7 linked regions of the Homo sapiens genome follow. The protein of the gene in region 3 purifies or fractionates together with the protein of the main gene of each other region. This does not show direct contact. Each region holds a gene or a part of one and is shown on either strand. Other genes may lie near its edges.

What was found.
Region 1: the proteins of FBL (region 3) and NOL8 purify together in Homo sapiens (affinity purification with mass spectrometry; 3 studies listed by BioGRID and IntAct, with this or other methods). This does not show direct contact.
Region 2: the proteins of FBL (region 3) and DCAF13 purify together in Homo sapiens (affinity purification with western blotting; 3 studies listed by BioGRID, with this or other methods). This does not show direct contact.
Region 4: the proteins of FBL (region 3) and UTP15 purify together in Homo sapiens (affinity purification with mass spectrometry; 4 studies listed by BioGRID and IntAct, with this or other methods). This does not show direct contact.
Region 5: the proteins of FBL (region 3) and RECQL4 purify together in Homo sapiens (affinity purification with mass spectrometry; 4 studies listed by BioGRID and IntAct, with this or other methods). This does not show direct contact.
Region 6: the proteins of FBL (region 3) and ZNF324 purify together in Homo sapiens (affinity purification with mass spectrometry; 3 studies listed by BioGRID and IntAct, with this or other methods). This does not show direct contact.
Region 7: the proteins of FBL (region 3) and WDR75 purify together in Homo sapiens (affinity purification with mass spectrometry; 3 studies listed by BioGRID and IntAct, with this or other methods). This does not show direct contact.

Annotation. Positions count from the first base shown.
Region 1 is NC_000009.12:92,296,858-92,299,104, forward strand, and holds the end of NOL8 (nucleolar protein 8), read right to left. Parts: intron 2,098-2,247; coding exon 2,027-2,097; intron 1,480-2,026; coding exon 1,400-1,479; intron 1,030-1,399; coding exon 979-1,029; 3' UTR 501-978; downstream 1-500. UniProt on the Homo sapiens protein: Plays an essential role in the survival of diffuse-type gastric cancer cells. Acts as a nucleolar anchoring protein for DDX47. May be involved in regulation of gene expression at the post-transcriptional level or in ribosome biogenesis in cancer cells.
Region 2 is NC_000008.11:103,428,886-103,432,385, reverse strand, and holds part of DCAF13 (DDB1- and CUL4-associated factor 13), read right to left. Parts: intron 1,775-3,500; coding exon 1,697-1,774; intron 1-1,696. UniProt on the Homo sapiens protein: Part of the small subunit (SSU) processome, first precursor of the small eukaryotic ribosomal subunit.
Region 3 is NC_000019.10:39,839,880-39,843,379, forward strand, and holds part of FBL (rRNA 2'-O-methyltransferase fibrillarin), read right to left. Parts: intron 909-3,500; coding exon 738-908; intron 637-737; coding exon 535-636; intron 449-534; coding exon 354-448; intron 1-353.
Region 4 is NC_000005.10:73,572,243-73,575,742, reverse strand, and holds part of UTP15 (U3 small nucleolar RNA-associated protein 15 homolog), read right to left. Parts: intron 3,255-3,500; coding exon 3,119-3,254; intron 1-3,118. UniProt on the Homo sapiens protein: Ribosome biogenesis factor. Involved in nucleolar processing of pre-18S ribosomal RNA. Required for optimal pre-ribosomal RNA transcription by RNA polymerase I.
Region 5 is NC_000008.11:144,510,788-144,514,833, forward strand, and holds the end of RECQL4 (ATP-dependent DNA helicase Q4), read right to left. Parts: intron 3,739-4,046; coding exon 3,655-3,738; intron 3,576-3,654; coding exon 3,402-3,575; intron 3,321-3,401; coding exon 3,141-3,320; intron 2,926-3,140; coding exon 2,784-2,925; intron 2,694-2,783; coding exon 2,431-2,693; intron 2,352-2,430; coding exon 2,060-2,351; coding exon of another isoform or gene 1,985-2,059; coding exon 1,855-1,984; intron 1,775-1,854; coding exon 1,605-1,774; intron 1,538-1,604; coding exon 1,357-1,537; intron 1,281-1,356; coding exon 1,124-1,280; coding exon of another isoform or gene 1,115-1,123; intron 1,003-1,114; coding exon 894-1,002; intron 769-893; coding exon 644-768; 3' UTR 501-643; downstream 1-500. Other genes in the region: SLC33A2 (major facilitator superfamily domain-containing protein 3), read left to right, coding at 7-377. UniProt on the Homo sapiens protein: An ATP-dependent DNA helicase which unwinds dsDNA with a 3'-overhang in a 3'-5' direction. Does not unwind more than 18 bp of dsDNA. May modulate chromosome segregation. The N-terminal domain (residues 1-54) binds DNA Y-shaped DNA better than ss- or dsDNA.
Region 6 is NC_000019.10:58,470,080-58,473,007, reverse strand, and holds part of ZNF324 (zinc finger protein 324A), read right to left. Parts: intron 2,278-2,928; coding exon 854-2,277; 3' UTR 1-853. UniProt on the Homo sapiens protein: May be involved in transcriptional regulation. May be involved in regulation of cell proliferation.
Region 7 is NC_000002.12:189,444,474-189,447,973, reverse strand, and holds part of WDR75 (WD repeat-containing protein 75), read right to left. Parts: intron 1-3,500. UniProt on the Homo sapiens protein: Ribosome biogenesis factor. Part of the small subunit (SSU) processome, first precursor of the small eukaryotic ribosomal subunit.

The sequences.
Region 1 (2,247 bases), on a different chromosome or scaffold from region 3:
AGCCACCACACCCAGCTAATTTTTGCATTTTTAGTAGAGATGGGGTTTCACCATGTTGGCCAGGCTGGTCTTGAAATCCTGACCTCCTCATGATCCGCCCGCCTTGGCCTCCCAAAGTACTGAGATTACAGGTGTGCGCCATCACGCCCGGCCTATGTAATACTATTTCATACAGAGCCCATTTTGATAGGAGACGTATGTCTTGAAATCTAGGCAGGTTGGTTTATTTAATGTAATGTTAAATCTGTTTCCCTATTTGGGCTCAGGGTCCTGACTCCTAATTGTGACTACCTATCTTTCAGGCACTTGGTATTTTTCATAAGCTTTTAGTCTAACTAGAATTTTGGGATTGGTGTACATCTAGATGTTGTTCCTTAATTCCTAGAGGCAATGACAAGATAACTGTATTTGGCTTCCTCTCCTGGTCCTCACAGAACTCTTATATGATGTTGGTCTGAAATGTCCTATATTTCAGTTAACCATTCACCAAAACACAAGTATAAAACTCAATGTTGACTTGTAATTTATCAGTTTAAACAAAAATGACAAAATGGAAGGTGTATTTGACATAATCAGAAATAAAATTTCAAATAGCCTATAATTCACACAAAGCCTAGGCTGGAAAATACAAGTGCTTTGACTCATTTATTTAAAAAGGCTTCATATAAACCTTGCATGAGAAGATGTCCATTAGTTACTCAGGATAGAGGGCAAAGAGATTATATACAAAAAGTATTTTCAAGGACTATCTTGTTCTTCCTTTATAAGAAGTTGAATTTAATTTTTGAAGTAATTACTTAGGAAGAAATGCAGAGGAGTTCCACAGAAAAAGATGGCAACCAGAATGATATTCCGTCAGCCAGATTTTTAAAATTCCTTCACTCTGAAATTTCTTCTTTGTCAGCTAAAACTGTTTTCTGGGTCAGTTTCCTTAGGTGAGCCTTGTTCACATTCAGTATCAAAACCAGCTGACATTTATTATTTTGGTTTCATTTTCCTTTTTGCGTCTTTATGTTTCTTTCGACAATCCTAGGAAAAAAAAAAGACTTGGTTAGCAATAAACAAATTGTTTTTAAGATGTTCAGTAGATAGAAGTAAAACAGGTTATTCTCACTGTCAGGGCTGTGGAAACCTATTTTGAAAGTGCTCTTTTGAAATGAAGAGGGGATATTGGCATTTTTGGCATTAACTGTTTATAATGGGAACTATAATTCAGTCTTTAAAAATCTGATGCTTTCGTGTTACTTAATAGGCTTGGCTGGATTCTGAGACCAGTCACTCAATTGAGCCAGTCTGCAGTCTCCTCACCTATACCATTCATGAGTTCCCTTCCAGGACTGTAATTCTAGATAGGTAACATGTCTATTTTAGGAAATAATATGGAGAAACAATTACTCACCATACGCAGGTTGGTTGTTCTGGCCTCCCAAGAGTTCCTGCTCATATTACTTCCTACTCCTCTCCAGAATAAGTCAGAACCTATTAGGGGAAAAAGAAGAAAGATGAGGCAGCAAACTACTACTAAAATTGGTAATATTCTAAGTGTTGGCATTATCAAGGTCTCGAATACCAGTTAAGATCATTCTTTTCCCTCAGTTTCTACCTATTTTCAAAAATTAGTATTTTTTCTTTCCAAATGAAAAATATAATATTGCTTTTACTGTTTATATATATCATTTACTATTATGTAACTTTGTTTATGCTAGGCTTTAAGAAATGAGCTCCCCAACAGCCTGAGTTTTCACATGGAATTTATGGCACTAAAACTTAGGGGTTTTATATGTCTAACATCTAAGGAAGCCCTTGGAACAAAACAACCCTTTGTTGATGAGAATGAGCGGGCAAAGAAAGTGGTGAGTGGGGAGCTCTCAGACCTTGACAGCTTTACAAGTTAACATTCATCAGTGTGAACAAATGGGGTTAAACCACATGACATTACCAACGGTCAAAATTCCTGGATGTGAATTACTGTAGCTGTATTATTACCTGTTCTATGTATGTAATTTGATGAAAAAAATGGACTGACCTTGAAGTCGTTCATCATTCTTAGAGAAAAAGAAAAATCTAGTGGTCTCTTTCTCAAGTAATGATGCTTCTCTGAAAAGAAAGGGACAAAGGAGAGAGAAAAATAGGTATTGGTTGGTTTAATTTCAATATTTAAGAAGAAATATTTACATTCAAAACATAAATACACTATTTCTTAAATATATCTTTTTTCATTTCCCCCTAGAATCCAGGTGAGCGAGA
Region 2 (3,500 bases), on a different chromosome or scaffold from region 3:
GTAACAAATGACTAAGTATCAAATTAGGGGCAAAATTAATGGTGAGCTTAGGGTTAACATAAAGAACTGTTTCTAAAGACAAGTATGATTTGAACTGACCTGTGAAGGATCAGTAATTCAGTGTTTCTCAATGGGAACACTGTTGGCATTTTGAGCAGGATTATCTTTTGTTGTGTATGACTATCCACTGTAGGATGTTTTGCCACTCAGGGACCTCCCACTACATGTCCCTCTTGCATTCCCAGAACTGTACCTGGTAGGGGACTACAATCCCTGACTAAGAACTACTACATTTATGAGAGAAAGGATAAAAGAAACATTGATAGACTAGTAGATGGAGCAAAGAAGCAACAGAAAGTAGCAGTGTCTAACAATCCCTACATCTATCAAAGTGACCTGCATGTGACAAACTCCAATTCAATGTTACCTAACTGACTAAAAGAAATAAATGAGTTGCAAATTAGAACCAGATTTCAGAGCACCTTGAAAGCCAGGCTACATTTTCTTCAACCTAAAATTAATGGAGCTCCATTAAAAACTGAGAATGTGCAAAGCAGGAGGCAATAACAATGAAAAATAAACTAAATTAAAAAAAAAACAGAATGAGTGTTAGGTAGGTGGGAGGGGGCAGAAATGACTATTCATTAAACTAGTACCTCATGTCAGCATTCTGCTAAATGCTTAAAGTATCATGTTTTATTCTCAGCGAAGTGCTGCGAGATAGTTATTAATACCACCACCTTACAGGAGAAACACATTTTAGGTTAACGTGCTTAAAAGTCTAAGACCAAAGTTCATATAGGATCTTCCCATTAAATCACATGAATGAGTGAAATCATATAAGTGGTACTTTGGAAAGATTATCATATTTATCTACTTCAAACTTCAATGAATGTACTCTCCTAATATCTAGTTGTTACGTTATAAAAATGATTTAGGAATAACAAAAGCAAGTATTAAAAGCATTTCTTTTGTATGTGGACTACGACAACAGACTTGTGGCATCTCAATGATGTCCAGCCCTTTCTGTCACTCAAAATTCTAGTACCTGAAATAAACTTTATACCCTTTTACTTACAATGGCACTCCTTTCCTTACTTACAGACAGTATCTGTCTCCCTCTTGAGAGTTAGCTTAAGTTGTATTATTAGCTCTGATATGTAAGTCCTGAAATTACTACTTTAGAATTGTTAGGAAATCTGTTACTTTGAACAGGATAGTGGTTGCCTAAATGTCAAACTAGTATTGATCAGCATGTAACTGAACAAATAAAGCTGGTTACGTGAATGAGTTCTAAAACCTTCTGGAATAAAATAGTGTACATGTCATACGATAATCATGGGGCTTGAATTTATTGAATATTATTTGAATATTATTACACTGTTAAGTAACAGGATGCAATACCTTTAAGAACTTTCAATTCAGTAAGTATTAATTAGAGGCCTAAAATGTACTGGCATCATGGAAGACACAAGGTTGGTGACTAGGATACAATACCTAGCAGAAATTTAAGAGTCTCTAAAAAGCAATAGGGAGCTGAAAGAACATGACTATCATCATGTAGAGTTCTAAGAACACCTGTATAAAAGATTTTTTTAATTCTGAGAAAATATTTGCTCCATATTGTTAGTCACTCTATTTACAGAGAAATATATAATGCCAACTGTATAAAGCAAAAGTCAAAACTGAAACTCACCTTTTTCAAAGGAGTAGCTTGCCTCATATCGTACAGTACTATATTCCTGTCAGATGCACAACTTCCCAAGAGAAATGTCTAAAAACAAGTATAACAATCACCAGTTCAAAGCCAGACCTGGCAGCAAACCACATCCATTCAGTAAACAAATGATTTAATTGCCCTTAATATTTATGTTAAAAAACAAAGTCCATTTTAAGAGGGTACAATAAATCATCCATAATCTCAGCAACTTAAACCAAGTATTTTCACTGTAAAATCCTCATGCTTGTATTTTATTTATTTATTTATTTATTTAGAGACAGAGTCTTGCTCTGTCACCCAGGCTGGAGTGCAGTGGTGCAATCTTGGCTCACTGCAACCTCTACCTCCCAGGTTCAAGCAATTCTCATGCCTCAGCCTGTGGAGGAGCTGGGATTACAGGGGTGCGCCACCACACCGGGCTAATATTTTGTATTTTTAGAAGAGACAGGGTTTCACCATGTTGCCCAGGCTGGTATCAAACTCCTGACCTCAGGTGAGCCACCTGCCTCAGCCTCCCAAAGTGCTGGGATTACAGGCATGAGCCACCGCACCTGGCCCCCATGCATGTATTTTAATGTACAGATATTACTGTGTTCTAATTTGTAATAAAACATATTTTACTTACCTACTCTTCAACTTAAGACTTGTTTCCTGTTTTTTACTATTATAAGTAATACTTCAATAAACATTTCCCCCCCACGTAGTTCTTCTTTTGAATTATTTCCTTAGGATAAAATTTCACAAATGACATTACTGAATCAAAAGGTATGAACAATTTTATGGCTTTTGATATTTAGGGCTAATTATTTTTCCAAAGAGCTGTACCAGTATACACTACAATGTGGGATATGTCCATTTTAATGCAACTGGGCAGCACTGGGTAGTGTCATTTAAAAGTGTCATTTAAAATATCTGTATGACAGTATTTCCTAGCTATATAAATTTATTGTTTTATTAGTAAATGTTTCTTCGTGTTGTTAACTCTCTATAAATTAGGCCTGTCTTTTGTCCAACTGTTTGAAGATTTTTCTAATTATTTTATTTGTAAGTCAATTATAAATGTGCATGGTACTCACATAACCCCTTGGCATTAAGTAAAAATAAGCCCTCTATCATCCAGTGGATCCCTGAAACCCTCTCTCTGTAGCATCATTCCTCCTCACTCATGGTTCCTGACACTCACAACTATTGGCTTCTGCCTACAATTACTTCCTATTGCAAGTATGTGGGCAGCAAGAAGAGCTATTTACTAAATAGTTGCATGGCCAGCTAACTCCTCCTACTGTCTGTACGCAATTCAAATAACACATCATAAAGCTAATGTTATGATCATGATTTCCTCTCAGTTCTTTCTGAAAGCCTGCTATCTTAATGGCTGCTTTTCTGAGACTTCCCTAGTGAGGTCCCTCAACCTTTCTTGGCTTCTCATTATGTCGCCTCAGGGTCTGACCAGGTTCCATTTCTAAAAAGAAAGACTTTGATCTGAACAAAGCAAAACAATCTACCTAGACCAAATGCCACCTTTCACACTGTAAAACGTCCCAATGATCAGCATAAACTTTTGGCTTTACCAGAATTCTAGGCTTCAATATTTTAAGAGAAAATTAATTATTAATGATTAGAGGAGACAAATACAAATACACTCCATTTGTTCACAGCAACATGCCCTTTCCATTAAGTTTAAAACAGGATAAGAGACACACACACCATTTACTTTTACCACTAAGTTCATAAGGTTAATAGCAATTAAAAAAAAAAACAGCTGAACAAATACAGCTGC
Region 3 (3,500 bases):
CTGGAGAAGCAGATGATAAGGACGCAGCCTCCCACAGAGCTGGGAGTGGGAACAGCAAGGCCAGGGTGGCTGGAGGACACTTGGTCAGAGAGTTAGTGAAGGAGACAAAGCCAGGGGGCAGGGAGGGGGAACTGGAATGCACAGGGTCTTGGAGGCCTGAGTGAAGACTCAGGAGTCTAACTGGAAGGCCGTGGGGAGTCACAGAAGGCGGATGAGGGAGCAGACAGTGTGGTTTACATATTATGACAATCCTCCAGCTGTCACGTGCAGGACACATGGTGAGGGCAGACACAGACTACTGGCTACACCCTCAGCTGCGACCCTGGTGGCTTGGACAGGGGCCCAGTTCTCACCGAAATCGAGACTCTCTTCTCTCCATAAACTGATTCCCCAGGGACCAGGTTCTTGGTGACCAGTGCATCTTCCTTTCCTCGACAAATGAAGACACCTGGGTGAGGGGATCAGAGCAGGGGTGAGGACCCCCAGCCTCTCCCTGCCCCGAAGCTCAGCCGGCTCCCTGCCTTCCTCACTCACCCTCATGCCGATGCGGCTCCACCATCACATTCTTCCCCGACTGGTTTCCTCTTTTTCCTCCCCGACCACGACCCCGGTTGCCACCAGAATGGAAGCCTCCACCTATAAAGGAGAGGTACAACAGGAGAGAAAGATCCTGAATCTCCGCCCTCCCCACTCCCCACCTCAGGAAGGCCTCCTCTGTAACCCCTAGCCAATCTTACCACCTCTTCCTCCTCCTCCACCGCCGCCGCCGCCTCCACCTCCTCCTCGTCCACGACCTCTAAAGCCTCCGCCTCGACCTCGGCCCCCGCCAAAGCCCCCTCGGCCTCCACGACCACCACGGTCACCAAAGCCCCCTCGGCCGCCAAAGCCACCCCCACGGGGACTGAATCCTGTGGGGGAAACAAAACAGGAGTCAGGGCAATGAAGCTTAAAAGGTTAAACCACCTTGTACCCAGCAATACCTCTCAGGTGAGAAACCTGAAATACATGTGCCCGTGTACAGCAGGACACATTTCCAAGAATGTCCACAGCAAAAGAAAAGTGAAGACTAACCCAAATGTCCATCAATAGAATGGGCAAATAAAATAGAAGACATTCACAATCAAGATCATGAAAATGACCTTCAGTTATACACAACAGACTAATAAATGTTAAAATCATAATAATTTTTTTTGCTTAGTGCTTTTTTTTTGAGACAGGGTCTTGCTGTGCCGCCCAGGTTGGAGAGCAATGGCACAATCACAGCTCACCGCAGCCTCGAACTCCTGGGCTCAAGCAATTCTCCTGCCTCGGTCTCTGAAGTAGCTAGATTACAGGTGTGTGCCACTACTCCCATAGTGTAGAGATGGGGGTCTCACTATGTTGCCCAGGCTAGTCTCCAGCTCCTGGCTCAAGTGATCCTCCTGCCTTGGCCTCCTGAAGTGCTGGGATTACAGGTGTCAGGCACCACACCCAGCCACAATCATACTGCCCAAGAAAAGGAGCAAGGGAATGAGAAATGTAAAACTCATGATATTGGTGAATGGGAAGGAGATATTAATATGGGGTTGGGATAGGGGAGGAGTACATGAATAGATGTAGGTTACTGTTAATATCCTGGTTTCCTTGGTTGCATAGCAGATTCACAGAATTCATTCCATGTCAATATTAATTACTGTGAAGAGTGAGCCCTGCATACGAGCACATGCTGTGACAACAGGGCCCCCTAGACTCTGCAAACGTCTTCATACTCTCCCACTCCTGACCTTGGAGCTGGAAGAAAAGTGTCAACCCCAGCCCCAAAACAGAGGGGAATACAGGATGATGTCAGCCCTAACTCATCTCCCTGCTTCCAAGCTTAAAGAAGTCCCTCTCAGCTCAGGGGAAAAACAAGAAAAAGCAGAACAAACTGTCATTTAAGGATAGGCTGCACTTTACAAGTAGTTTGCGACTTGTCAGTAAGATCGAAATGTTTAAGAAATAACAGACTCAGACAGGCTTTATTCTTACCAGTTCAGGACAACAAACACCATTAGCACAAAACAACGTTTAAAACAGAACTCTGGTGCTAACAGATTCAATATTTTCTCTGATTTGGTTTCAAAAACTCAGAAGTACTAAATCACACAAGTTAAAAAAAATAGTTGGAAAACTAGTGGTTTAAAATTATCTCACATTCTCACATGATGTAATCTATTCAATCATAAGCTTGCTTTTTTTTTTTTTTGAGACGGAGTCTCACTCTGTCACCCAGGCTGGAGTGCAGTGACACGATCTCGGCTCACTGCAAGCTCCACCTCCCAGGTTCACGCCTTTCTCCTGCCTCAGCCTCCCCAGTAGCTGGGACTACAGGCGCCCACCACCATGCCCGGCTAATTTTTTTGTATTTTTAGTAGAGAAGGGGTTTCACCGTGTTAGCCAGGATGGTCTCAATCTCCTGACCTCTTGATCCGCCCGCCTCAGCCTCCCAAAGTGCTGGGATTACAGGCGTGAGCCAGCGCGCCCAGCCTTGCTCATGTTTTTTGTAAAGATACATTATGATCTTGTCCTACGAACCCTTCATGCACCTTAATGGTATTAAAGATAAAAAATGTGTCTTTTAACAGCCATTCCTAATTTAATCTTTAAAAATGAACGGTTTCATTTTCAAAACTCCCAAACAACCAAAAGTTGTTTACTTTTAATCTTCTACTCCCTCTACAGTCCACTTTTCACACAGCAGCTAATACATGCTATTTTTAAAACAGCAAGTAAGATCTCATCATGCCCTTGCCCAAATCCCTCCAATGGTTTTCCACCACATCCAAAATGAAATAAAAAGTCCTTTCCCTGGCTTACAAAGCCTGAAATCAAAGCCTAAAATCTTTAGGCTTTAAATTCTGATTTCATTGTTCTGGGCGCAAGGTCTTCCCCTAAAGCTCTCCAGGTGACTCCAAGGTGCAGCCCACATTGAGTATCATCATCCTAAGGATCTGGCCTGTGCTGACTTCCCTGACTTCATTCTCTTTATGCTGGGCCCCATGCTCTTCCCCACCAAGCATACACAGTCCAGCTTCTAAATCTTTACCACGTGCTGTTCCCACTGCCTGGCTCCTGCAGACATGTGCATGGCTCACTCGCTCCTTCACTGCATTCTGGTCTCTGATAAAATGTTAGTTCCCCAGAAGGGCCTACTTTGGCCACAGTACCCTTACCCTGCTTTATTTCCCTTCAAATCAATTATCACACATGGCATTTTTAATATTATTACCACCTGCCTCCCCCACTAAGATCAAGCTCCAAATGGGCAGGGATTTTTAACTGTTTTGGTCACCACCGCATCCCCAAAACCCTGCACAACATCTGGCACAAAGTATGGGCTCAATAAATGTTAAATGAGCACTGAGCTGATGACTCTTAAACCCTGGGCCCTGCCTCAAGGAGAAAGCACCCTCTATTTGTTCAGAAAGCACACAATCCATCAGATGGTGACCAGGGAAGTGCCGGTCACTCCCCTCAAGTAT
Region 4 (3,500 bases), on a different chromosome or scaffold from region 3:
CTTAAAAAAAAAAAAAGAAAAAATTATCAATGAAAGCACATCACAAAGCCAAGTGTGATGGCTCACACCTGTAATCCCAGCACTCTGGGAGGCCAAGGACAGCAGATTGTTTGAGCCCAGGAGTTCAAGACCAGCCTGGGCAACTTGAAGAAACCCTGTCTCTAAAAAAATAAATTAAAAAAAAAAAAAGAAAGAAAGAAAGTACACATGAAGCCAAAGATCAGGGATTCTCAACCTCAGAATTACTGTCATTTTGGGGCACAGAATTCTTTTTTGTGGGGGTTGTTCTGTGCATTGTAGGATGTTTAGCAGCCTTCCTGGCCTCTATCCCCTATATGGTAAGTACCATGAGTTGTGATAAAAAACAATACTTTCTCAAGATATTGTCAAACGTTCCTTGAGGAACAAAAATCACTCTTGGTTGAAACCACCACAAATAGAGCCAATTTACACTTAGCTTTTAGGAACATACCTAAGAATCAAGTCCCAAATTGCCGAGTAACATGATTTCAGTAACATGTGTAAACTTGCCATGTATTTACATAAAAAATTCCTTTGTATTAAAAATATTTTCTAGCTTTTAAAATATGTACAGTCAATCCTTCTTATGGCAGGTTCCACATCTGCAGATTCAACCAACCATGGATTGAAAATATCCATAAATATATAAACAATACAGAATTTTAAAATACAGTGTAACAACTATTTACATAGCATTTGCATTGTATTAGGTATTACAAATAAGCAAGCCATGATTTAAAGTATACAGTGGATGTGTGTAGGTTATATGCAAATATGCCATTTTAAATAAGGGACTTGGGCATCCACAACCAATTCTCCTCAGTTACCAAGAGATGACTGTATACTTTTTAATTAACATGCTGAAAACTAAAGTTTTTCATAAGAGCAGAAAAAAATGAAAATATGGAAATAAAATAATAAAAAATAGATCATGTAAGCCGGGCACGGTGGCTCACGCCAGTAATCCAGCACTTTGGGAGGCTGAGGTGGGAGGATCTGTTGAACTCAGGAGTTTGAGACCAGCCTCGGCAACATGGCAAAACCCCATCTCAACAAAAATACAAAAATGAGTCAGGTACAGTGGCGCGTGCCGGTGGTCCCAGCTACTGAGGAAGCTGAGGCGAGGGGATCGCTCGAAGCCAGGAGGTGGAGGTTGCAGTCAGCCAAGATCATGCCACTGCCCTCCAGCCTGGGCGACAGAGCAAAACCCTGTCTCAAAAAAAAAAAAAATTAATAATAAATCATGTAAATTCTAGAACTGTGCCATACTTCTAGCTGCACATGGCTACTGACCACTTGAAATGTGGCTAGTGAAAATGAGAAACTAAATTTTTTATTTTATCTAATTTTAATTTAAAAACTGAGACAGTAATTTTTATAAAATATTATCTTTTTTTTTTTAGAGACAGGGTATCACTGTAACCCAGGATAGAGTACAGTGGTACTATCACAGCTCACTGCAACCTCAAACTCCGGCTTAAGTGCTTCTCCTGCCTCAGCCTCCCTAGTAGCTATGATTAAAGGTGTGTACCACTGTGGCCAGCTAATTTTTTTAATTTTTTGTAGAGATGGGGTCTCACTATATTCCCTAGGCTGGTCTCAAACTCCTGGCCTCAAGTGATCCTCCCACCTCAGCCTCCCAAAGCACTGGGATTACAGGTGTAAGCCACTGTACCAACCTAAAATATGATTATTGTATCATAGTGCACATGTTTAGATGCTTAATTTATTTCTAGTATCTTAATAATTTTGACATAGATTACATACTGAAATTATATTTTATATGTAATATATATTTTATTTTTACATTAGATATTAGGCTAAATAAAATGTGCTATCTAACTTTTAGGTCAGGCGTGGTGGCTCATGCCTGTAATCCCAGCACTTTGGGAGGCCAAGGTGAGTGGATCACCTGAAGTCAGAAGTTCCAGACCAGCCTGGCCATCACGGCGAAACTCTGTCTCTACTAAAAATACAAAAATTAGCCGGGCAAGGTGGCAAGCGCCTATAATCCCAGCCACTCAGGAAGCTGAGGCAGAATCGCTTGAACCCGGGAAGCAGAGGTTGCAGTGAGCTGAGATCCCACCACTGCACTCCAGCCTGGGCAACAGAGCGAGATGTCATCTCAAAAAAAAAAAAAAAATTAATTTATCTAATTTTTAAAAAACTTTTCAGGCCAGGCACAGTGGCTCACACCTGTAATCCCAGCACTTTGGGAGGGCGTGGTGGGCAGACCACACGAGGCCAGAAGTTCGAGACCAGTCTGGGCAATATGGCGAAACCCCGTCTCTACTAAAAATACAAAAATTAGCCAGGCATGGTGCTGCACACCTGTAATCCCAGCTACTTGGGAGGCTGGGTCACGAGAATCGCTTGAACCTGGGAGACAGAGGTTGCAGTAAGCCCAGATTGTGCCACTGCACACCAGCCTGGGCAACAGAACAAGACTCTGTCTCAAAAAAAAAAAAAAAAACTTCAAAATATATGAATGTACAATAATGATTTTAAAAGATGGTTTATAGAATAACATTATTTGAAAGATTATCATTCAAATGGTTCAATAATGTTGTTTAAGTATACAAGTTAAAACAAATTGTGTCAAAGGAGAAAATAAGTAGCTATGGGTGGCCGGGTGTGGTGGCTCACGCCTGTAATCCCAGCACTTTGGGAGGCTGAGGTGGGCGGATCACGAGGTCAGGAGTTCAAGACCTGCCTGACCAACATGGTGAAACTCCGTCTCTACTAAAAATAAAAAACTTAGCCGGGCATTGTGGCGCGTGCCTGTTATCCCAGCTACTCAGGAGGCTGAGGCAGGAGAACCACTTGAACCTGGGAGGCGGAGGTTGCAGCGAGCCGAGATTGCACCACTGCACTCCAGCCTAGGTGACAGAGTGAGACTCTGTCTCAAAAAAAAAGAAAAGAAAAGAAGTAGCTATATGTAAACAAAAGGTCAAAACTATTTTCAACTCAACAGGTTTTTTTCTCCTGGAAATCATTATCTGTATACTTATCACAAATATTGCTGAAATAACTCATTTCCTCAAGCAGTAAACAGGTGTACACTAATAATAATATACAAAAAAATTAAAATGCCAACCTATCCAGTGAGCCAGAGAGTAACCTCTGTCCAGAGCTGCTTAGACATAAACATGTCACGGTTTTGTGATGATTTTTCAAAGATACTAGCAATTGTCCTCCTTTTAACATGTCCCAGACTTTAACATAACGACCTCCTATAAAAAGAAATCATCGTTAGTTGGATATTCTGCCCACAGATTCAACATATTAAAGATCTGAAAAGCATTCTTCTCTGGACACTCCACAAAGCATGGAGGCTGAGTGAGGGAGTCCAGGCCAGGCTGCCTGGTAAAATCCTGGATGCACCACTTCCTGGGTCATTGGTAATAACAGTTCCTACCTCACAGAACTGTTATGACCATTAAATAATATTTGTGAAGTGTACATAAATTCCAGCAAAA
Region 5 (4,046 bases), on a different chromosome or scaffold from region 3:
TCCCAGGGTCAGCCTTGCTGAGCCTATGTCTGCAGCACTTCTTGGGAGGCCTGGTCACCACAGTCACCTTCACTGGGATGATGCGCTGCAGCCAGCTGGCCCCCAGGGCCCTGCAGGTGAGTAGATGTAGCAGGGACACAAGAGAGACCACGGGGCTGGGGCTGTGTGGGCCTGACCTTGACCGTGACCCCCACCCCCCTCAGGCCACACACTACAGCCTTCTGGCCACGCTGGAGCTGCTGGGGAAGCTGCTGCTGGGCACTCTGGCCGGAGGCCTGGCTGATGGGTTGGGGCCACATCCCTGCTTCTTGCTCCTGCTCATCCTCTCTGCCTTTCCCGTTCTGTACCTGGACCTAGCACCCAGCACCTTTCTCTGAGCTGAGTGGCTGGAGTGGTCAATAAAGCCACATGTGCCTGTGGCCCAGATGTCTCTGTGCCTGGAATATGTGATGTGCTTGTCCCCAGCTTGTGGGGGTTGCCTCATTGGCCAAGAGGGCCCATAAAAACAAAGTGAGCATTTTTTATTCTGCATTTTGGAGCCTCCTCGTTCCCACACCCTGTGGCAGGTTTTGCCCAGGTCCTCAGTCACTGCCCTAGCCTCTGACAACCCCAGCTCTACCCGACATCCCCCAATGCAGTGCAGTCAGCGGGCCACCTGCAGGAGCTCTTCCGTGGCCAGGCCCACCAGGGCATGGAAGCTCAGGTGCAGGTATTTTCTCCAGAAGCGTCGGTCCTGCCCGTACACCTGGGCCGGGTAGCAGGGGCTTCCTACGGTGGAGCCAAGACACAGCCGTGAGCCCCAGCCCCAGCCTGCAGCGGGTGGAGCCTCCCAGGCCTCACCTGCCCCAGCCCCCAGCCCCAGCCTGCAGCGGGTGGGGCCTCCCAGGCCTCACCGATGCCGTGGAAGATGCGGGCCACAGCCCTGCTGGAGAACTTCTCCTCTGGCCTCAGGGACAGGAACTGGCGGATGTCGCAGCGGACCTGGTCCTCCCAATCCTGGAGCTGTGTGGACAGGCACATCAGGCTTCCTCTGAGCTCCCGTGGCACTGCATCCACAGAGCAAGCCCCATGCAGCCCAGGGAACCTGCAACCCCGATGAGCTGCCTGGCCTTACTGCACTCACTCTGGCCTGCCCTGGCTCGGGGCCCTGTGCGTCCTCCATGCCTCCCGGCTCCTGCCCTTCCTCTTCCTCAAAGTAGCGGCCGAGCAGGTCCTTGAGCCTGGTGCTGCGCTCCTCATCCTGCTGCTCCAGGCAGGGCCCGCAGCTGGGGAAGGCTACGCTGTGGGGAGGAGCCTGTCAGAGCTGATCACTGCGGGAGGGTGGATGGTCCCAGGCCCCGCCCGCCTCCTCCCAACCTGTGAAAGGCCTGGAAGGTTCTGCGCAGACGGGCCAGGGCCTGGCGCTCCCGGGCCTGCACACGGCCATAGAGGAAGTCACATATCTGGTCCTTCTCCTCAGCGGTCAAGTCCCCCGGGCTGCGAAGGTGGAAGGCCAGCTCACTGAACTCCACAAGCACCCCTGTCCCACGCCGCACACCTGCCGGAAAGCATGTCAGATGCAGGCAGGCAGCGTCCAGGGCGGTGTGGGGTGGGGAGAGGCGCACCTGTCCTGGGCTCGTGGTCCCACTGCAGCTGGCAGAGAGCCCGCCGCACAGAGGCCAGCTCCCAGCCCATGGAGTCCACCAGCTTGACCATGTCAAACTCCACGGAGCTGCTGCCTTGCCCTGGGTCCTCAGGCAGCTGCTGGGCCAAGCACACAGCCAAAGGGGGACACCTGTGCCCAGGGAAAAAGGGACATGTGGCCAACAGCCCTGATTCTCCAACCTCGTCTCCAACTGGGCAGGGCGTGCTTACCTGTGGGCCAGGGCCTGGAGCTGGGCAGGGCCCCCAGGGCAGTTCAGACGGCAATGGGTATAGGTGGTCGCCAGCAGCTCCAGCCAGTGGTGTGGGTGCAGCTCCAGGTAGCACAGCAAAGTCTCGATGGCTGGGGGCAGAGCAGGGCTCAGCGGACGCGGGGACAGCCCCTCCACACCCCTGTGGCTTACCCCAGGTTCCTCACCCTCCTCCGGCATGTCCAAAGCCTGTACGGTAAGCTGTATTGGGAGTGCCCGCTCATGGCCCATGCAGACCCTTCTGGGTCCTGGGGCTGCTTGGTGGCTAAGCTGCTCAGCCTCTTGAGGGGGGTACTTGGGCACAGGCCTCTCCCCACCCACGGCCCCTTCCTGCTCCGAGGGCGGCCTGGTGCAGGTGCAGGTGCAGGCTGGGAACACGCGCTGTACCAGCCTCTTCACAGCCAGGAAGTCCGTGCTGTCGGCGTGCACATGTCTGCGCAGCTCTCGCAGGTCTTCGCCCTGCAGGGCAACTTTCATGAGGGTGGGGTGGACCACTGGGGGCTCGAGCACTGGCAGTGTGGGGGGGGGGGGTGCCAACCTGGGGCTGCAGGAAGAGGTGGCAGTGGGCAGGCTGCCCGTCACGCCCGGCCCGGCCCACGGCCTGCACGTAGCTCTCGAAGCTTGGGGGCAGCCCCAGATGCAGCACAGCCCGCACATCTGGCCGGTCCAGCCCCATCCCAAAGGCCACCGTGGCCACCACCACCCGCAACTGGCCCTGCATGAAGGCTCGCTGTACCCGCCGCCGTTCCCGGCTGCACATGCCCGCGTGGTAGGCCTCGGCTGTGGTTTTGGGGGCACGACCTTTGGGGAAGACAGGCAGATGGTCAGTGGGATGGGACCATGTGTGCCCAAGGTGGGTCCACGGGGACACCAGCTCTGTCCATGCCGCACCTCCAGACCCTGGGACCCAGGCTGCGTGCAGGCAGGTTCGGAGGAGCGCAGCGATCCGCTCTGTGTCCTCGCGCCGGTTGCAGTAAATGATAATGGAATCGAGGTTTTGAAAACGTTTGCCTTGCAGCAGCGTCAACAGTGCCTGATGAGGAGCGGTTGGCGTGGGCAGTGGGGAGTGAGGAGGGGTCGGCGTGTGCAGTGGGGAGTGAGGAGGGGTCGGCGTGGGGAGTGAGGAGGGGTCGGCGTGGGCGGTGGGGAGTGAGAAGGGGTCGGCGTGGGCGGTGGGGAGTGAGGAGGGGTCGGCGTGGGCAGTCAGCAGCCAGGGCCCTGCAGGGTCCCCAGAGCACACACACCCACCTGGTCTGTGTCCCTGTCCATGGACACGGAAAGGTGCAGGTTGGTGGGAACTGGGGCTGGCCCGTGGAGGTCAGGCTCTTCAGCCACAGCCAGGTGCTGTGCCACGTCACTGGCAGTGCGGCGTGTGGCTGTGGCTGTGAGGCCCAGGAAGCAGTGCACGCCCATGCGCTCCCGAAGCACCTGCACCAGAGGCGGCAGTGGTGTGAGGCCGCCCAGCCCATCCCGGCCCTGGCCGCCCACCCCAGTTCACATATGGCTCACCTTGCAGACGCGCAGGTAGCAGGGCCGGAAGTTGTGGGACCACTGGGAGAGGCAGTGGGCCTCATCAATGCAGGCAAAAGCAACTGGAGGCAGCTGTGCGGCTGGAGGGAGGCCTCCCGCCCCCACCAGTGCCTCAGGTGTCAGCATCAGCACGTGTACCTGGGCTGCCCGAATCTGAAGGCAGCAAGATCAGAGGCACAGCCCAGGTGCCCGCCCGCTGCCTCCCTCACCCCTAGGCCCATGAGGCCCCCACCTTCTGCAGGACAGATTCCCGTTGCTTCCTGGTCATGCCCGAGTGTATGCAGGCCGCCTTGAGACACGGTGGCAGGCCAGACACCTGCAAATGCAGGAGCGACAGCCGTCATACGCCAGCCCAGCCCTGGCCCTTCCCCAAGTCATCCCAGAGCTGCTGCCATGTCCATCCTAGTCCCTCAGGGGAGAGGAGAACCAGGTCCTGGGTCCTAGGGCTAAGGGTTTAGAGCCACCTGTGGGCCTTGGCCCAGGAGCCCCAGAGCAGACAGACTGAAGTAGGGATGGCTCCTTTCCCAGCACATTTCCCGTAGGGGTGGCTGTGGTGCCTGTGGAGCTGGGCTGCCTTTGACCTGCTGCCAAGACTGGGACTGAGGCCACAGACACCTTGAAGCT
Region 6 (2,928 bases), about 19 Mb from region 3:
CGAGTGCCACCGGAAAGCCATCATCCTAGCTCTGTCCTTCCAATGCTGAGAGTCACATGTTCCCCCATGGGCATCCCTCTCCTGAGTCGGCTATGTGTGTGAAGCCAGGCCAGGCCGTGTGCCTCAGTTTCCTCATCTTCCAAGTCGGGATACCAGCCACAGAGCCATCTCACAGGGCTTCAGGAGAAACTTCCCAGTACTCAGGACAGGAGCTGGCAGTGAGCATGTGTTGGCTCTCATTAGGACCCCACCTGTCAGCGTCTACAAACATGATGTTCAGTGGACCCAAACCTTTTCTCTTTCCCAGAGGTGGCGGCTGACAGAGCCCAGACCCTGATCCCCAGTCCCTTGTGGTCTCTTGTCTGCTAGGCTGGCCCCTAGGAAGTCTTGGATGAACAGAGGCAGTGGGTTGAGGGGAGAATACCCTCAGCGGGCATCTCTCCAGCGGCCAGTTTGTGTACAGCTGTCATAAGTTTCTCTGGGCCACCCCCAACCCATGCCTGCATCCCTCTCACCTTAGCATCCACTGTCATATCACATGAAGCCGCACCACAGTGCAGTGCTGTGACTGTCGGCCTCCTACTGGCTCTGAATAGTCTCGGCCCCACTAGAGTTCAGCCACCACGTCCTCCCCCTGATGTTGCTGCAGTGCTACCTCTTTGGGGATGGAGGTGTGATCTGTGGGTGAACTGGCAAATCCTGTCCCCACGTGCAAATGAAATCACAGCCAAAGGGCCTCCCTTGTCCCTGACTAGCAAGCACGGGACTTTTTCTCTGCTGTGGATCTGCAGAGGACATATGCCCTTTAGCTGTGGAAGGGATTCACAGAAGGCCAGGGCTGCAACCTGTGACCTCAGACCTCCGCTGGCTGCGAGACGGCGGCTGGGCCCGAGGCGGGAGTGGGCTCGGTTTCCTTCGCTGGCGCACCTTCTGATGATGCCCCGGCAACAGACCTGGCCTGGGGGTGCAGGCTGGCCCTGGATCGCCGGACGGTCTTCTCGCCGGTATGGATCCTCTGGTGGTGGAAGAGGGCCGGGCGCTCACGGAAGGCGCGGCCACACTGCGTACACACGAAGGGCTTCTCGCCCGTGTGAATGCGCCGGTGGCTGAGCAGCACGGCGCCCTTGGCGAAGGCCTTGCCACAGTCCACGCAGCGGAAGGGCCGCTCGCCCGTGTGCAGGAGCTGGTGCTGGGTGAGGTTGGAGCTGTGGCTAAAGGCGCGGCCGCACTGTGGGCAGGCGAAGGGCTTCTCGCCTGTGTGCACGCGCTGGTGCTTAAAGAGCGAGGAGCCCTGGCTGAAGGCAGCACCGCAGAGCGCGCACACGAAGGGCTTCTCGCCTGTGTGCGTACGCTCGTGCTGGATCAGGTGCGAGTTGCGGCAGAAGCGGCGGCCACACTGTGCGCAAGCATAAGGACGCCCACCCGCGTGGATCTTGCGGTGCTGGCTGAGGTTGGAGCCGTGGCTGAAGGCCTTGCCGCACTCGGAGCAGCGGAAGGACTTCTCGGCCGTGTGGATGCGCTGGTGCCGCACCAGCGAGGAGCTATGCCGGAAGGCCTTGCCGCACACGGGGCACGCGTAGGGCGTCTCGCCGCTGTGGATGCGCTGGTGCTGCGTCAAGTGCGACGTCTGGCTGAAGGCCTTGCCGCACTGGGCGCACTCGTAGGGCCGCTCCCCGGTGTGGGTGCGTAGGTGCTTGAGGAGGTCGGAGCTCTTCACGAACACTTTGCTGCACGCCCTGCATTCGAAGGACTTCTCCCCAGCGTGAAGAGCCTCGCCCAGCTCGTCCCAGGTCGAGGGCTCCTGGCCACCGAGGAGTCTATGAGGCTCCTGCCAAACTGCACCCATTCGGTGATGTCCCCGACCGCCGGCAGCCTCCAGGTCCTGGGCGCTCCCAAAGGTTCTCCCAGGGACCTCCTGTGCACATGGTTTCTGCCGCTCAGGCGTCCTGGGCTGCCTCCCCAGCAACGCATGCTCTGTGAGTGTCTTTTCTCTAAGCCGGACGCCCTCGGGAGGCCTAAGCGGGGAGGTCAGTCGCAGGCTGACGCTGGCTTGCCCACTGCCTGAGCCTAGCAGGAGCCTCTCCCAGTAGATCACCGACACCCCCGTGGGTTTTCTCTCCCGAGATGGGGAGGCACCCCGTTGTCTCTGCAGGCTTTTTACACTGTGGCAGGCACCGGCAACAGGGAAGACGCTAGTAGTCATCCCAGGTGGGGTATCTGGGAAAGCTCGTGGCCATTCTCCAGAAACATCTCTATCCTCTGTCAAACTCCAGGAACCTAAAGGCAGAGAAACAGTGGTTGCCTGGGGCATCCTGGTTAGGAGAGGACCAGGGCAGGCTGAGTGGACAGGCAAGAAGGAACCCCGGAGCTGGCACAAAAGCTTAGGGGAAAAGTAGAGGTGAGGCTGGCCCTGCAGGAGGGGCTGGGGTTTGGAGGAACAATCTGCCCTGATAGGTATGGCACTGACTACACTGGGCACTCCCATGATCAAGGTGGCAGCCCCCCGACACCCAGGATGTGAAGCTGAGGAAAACTAGCGGCTGCTGTATGCTGCATACATCTCCACACTGGCTATTCCACCCACACTCTTTCCATTGCTTACCCCCTTCCCCCCGCCCCTGTCCCCCTTCTCAGGCACCCACTCCCCAACCTGCTCCTGCAATGACCTCCATCCAGTGCTCTAGACTATACTCCTGAATCCTGCTTACCGACTGCCTCTCCCACCACACCATGAGCCCCAGAAAAGCAGGACCAGGGTCGTCCTGATTGAGGCTGTGTCTACATTGCCTGGACTGGGCCTGACCACTGTGAGCACTCAGGAAATGTTTGCTGAACACAAAGATGAAGGGTGAAAAAAATGACCCATCAATTATGGCAGTGACTAGCCATGGAGGGTTTGAGGCCAGCCCAGCTGATAGCAGGACTCTG
Region 7 (3,500 bases), on a different chromosome or scaffold from region 3:
GGGAAACTGCCCCCATGATTCAGTTATCTCCAATTGGGTCCCTCCCACATGTGGAAATTATGGGAGCTACAATTCAAAATGAGATTTGGGTGGGGACACAGCCAAACCATATCACATACTCAATAGGTAGTAGGATCTTTTTATTGTCCATGATAAAAATGCAACAGACATTTCTTTTGGTATAGTTTAAGAATTGTATACTCAAATTTGTGTGCCTTTTGTCTATGGGGACATCTATGACCAATCAGTTCATTAACTCAGAAGAGATTATTAACTCAGAAAAGATTAATGATGCCAATATCATATCTCTTGACTGTTTGTAGACAGAGGCTATAAATGGAATTATCCTGCAAAAACAGCCAGCTTAACCAAGTTGCCTGCTCATTAAATGGATGCAGACACTGTACTAGTCACTATCAACTATTACTCTTCAATAGTACTGCCAACAGCAGTGTTTTTCCATGTCCCCAACATCTCCATGGTTCACTGGCAACACCAGCTTACAAATGGTAAGTCAAAGGTTCTGCTCCAGTTGGTGAGGTCTGGGCCTTTTGTACAGAAAAATACAAAGACTTTATTCCATTTTTGTTTCTTGTTGCTGAAATGCTAGCTTTGCTTTGTCTTTCTGGATTTGTGGATTTCTTCCATGTAGCAGCAGCTACTAAATTACTAAAAGTGGTTAAGCTACTTGGGGCACTGTTTGACTACTTTCACGATATTATCACAGAACAAGGCGCAGAAATATAAATCTTCTTGTATCTTCCAAGTAAAAAGTATTTGCTCTGTGTCTATTATATTCATAGCAGTACTCTCTTATTTATGGTTTCACTTTCCCTGGTTTTAATTACCTACAGTCAAGATCAATCTGAAAATATTAAATGGAAAATTCCAGAAACAATTCATAAGTTTAAAATTGTATGCCATTCTCAGTAGTGAATTCCCTTGTCTCACCTGAGACATGAATCATTCCTTTTTCCAGCATTCTCTGCTGTAGACACACCTGCCCGTTAGTCACGTAGAAACTGTCTAGTTTATCCTATCCACTATTGCTGTACTGAAGTACTTATGTTCAAGTAACCCTTATTTTACTTAATAATGGCCCCAAAGTATAAGGGTAGTGATGCTGACATATTGTTATAATTGTTCTATTTTATTAGTTATTGATGTTAATCTCTGTGCCTGATTTATAACTTAAACTTTATCATAGGTATGTATGTATAGGAAAACATTTACTATATAGAGTGTCTGGTATTACCTGTGGTTCTAGGCATCCACTGAGGGTCCTGGAACATATCCTCTGTGGACAAGGGAGAGCTACTGTATTACAACACACTAAATTTGTTGCAAACTGGGACCACTACTATCCTATTTTATTAGTTCAAGACACTTGATTTTCACTTGTTCATCTCTTTGAAATTAGAATGCATCTTATAATCAATGGTCTCTTGTAAGTGCTGTCAGCCAGGAGGCATGGTTGTATGAAATGGTATAAGATCAAGAATGTATGAGCAACAAAGCATTTGCGATATATAACCTGCCCTTTGGCTGGAGCCTCTTCTCCATTCCCATGAGTACTTCAGTTCAGAAGCTTAACATCTCCAGCCTGGGCCACTCTTCAGGGCTTCCTACAGTCTCCAGGTACAGTCCTTCAATGCAGCTTTCACAGTCACACCAGACTAATTTTGCAAATTTGACCATATTACTTGCTCAGATAAAGCTAAAATCCTTCACTGTTTTCCCTCTGACTTTAGGAAATGATCTAAATTCTTAAGGCTTTGGTAGTCTGATCCCAGTCTAACTTGAACTACTTTTTCACTTAACACTGTGCTCTATTAAAATAGTTCATAACTCCAACAATTTCCCCCATCCCCCAGACACACCCTATCAATATGAAGAGGTCCTTTAGATATGGCTTCCTTGAGACAGTGGTGGGTAGGGGGCTACTGTTGGCCAAGAAAACTTTCCCTAATTGATTCTGATAAGCTTCCTCAGAAAAAAGGAATATCCTCTCTTCTTGTTTCTCAGCATAGAACAATGGCTTCAATTACTTAAACGCAACCCTTCAAAGTCAACTTTCTCTCCATGGTTTTGCACTCTCTGCTATCTACATAGAACACGTTTTCTAATTACTTCTTTTTTATTTCCTAAGAGTAAGCTTATTTTTTAACTTTTAATTTTGAAATAATTTTAGATTTACAGAAGAATTACAGAGTTCCTGCATACGCTTCACCTAGCTTCCACAAATGTTAGCACTTTACATAAGCACAGCATGTTAGTCAAAACTAAGATATTAACACTGGTACATGACTATTGACTACATAATTTATTTGGAGCTCTTCACTTTTTCCATTAATGTCTTTTTTATGTTCCTAGACCCCAGTCCAGCATACCACCTTAGTTGTCATATCTTCTCAGAACCTTCCAATCAGTGACAGTTTTTCAGTCTTTCCCATTTCTCAGAACTCTTGACTACTGCTTTAAGATTCAGCTCAGAATTTTCTCCCGGAAGCCCTTCCTCATCTTCTCATTCTAGATCAGCACCCGTCCTAATGTGCTTCTACACGACGGTGGGCTTAGCTCCATCACAGAACTTACCACAAGGCATTAAGACTGTCTGTGTACTATGTTTCTCCTCTACCAGACTGTGAGTCTTTGAGGTGAGACACTGTGTTTTCACTTATTAGAAACAATAATAAGTCAAACACAAATGGATTCGAATGTCAGCTTTATTATGTATTAGCTGAATGATGTTGGAGAATTTACTTAACCTCTTTAAACTTCACATCTCCACTTACAGTTAGCCACTGTAAAATGTAAATAACACGTTCTCATAGAGTTTAAGTGAAACATTGCATGCAAATACAAGCTTAGCATACACAGCAAGCACTCACTCAATAGGGATAATACCTTAACCTTGTAGACTGGAAGGTGTGTAATGCACCCACCACAACACCTGTCACATAGGATTCATCTTTGTTGAGAAAGTGAAGAAGTAAGAAATTAGGGATGTTTCAAGTCGGAACCAAGATTTAAACTAGACTCTGAAGGATGTATGATTTAAGGGGTGGGAAGAAAAAATAGCAACATAAGCAAGAGCAAGGAAATGGTATGATTATATACAAGACACAGATAATGTACTTATCTGACAAGCAAAGTGTCTATAATGGGTAGTATCAGGAAACAGTTGGGTAGGAAGAGTTGAGCTATATCAGAGAAGGGATTGAAAGCCATATAGAGGAGCTATAGTTAAGGAGGCAACAAAAAACTGTTAAAAAGTTCAGAGCAAGACTAGAAATAAGAGTTAGAGTAATAATGTTATAACAGTAACAACTTAGGAAAATTGTTACAGCAGCAATACTCAGAATGATCTGTAAGGGAAAAATACTGAGTTTGGGACATTAGCTTGTGGGCAATTTAGGAAAGTGAAAGGCAAGGATGACTCATTGTTTCAGTTTTCTCTACCCTAACAACCCCAGTGCAATAATTCACAGCACCATATA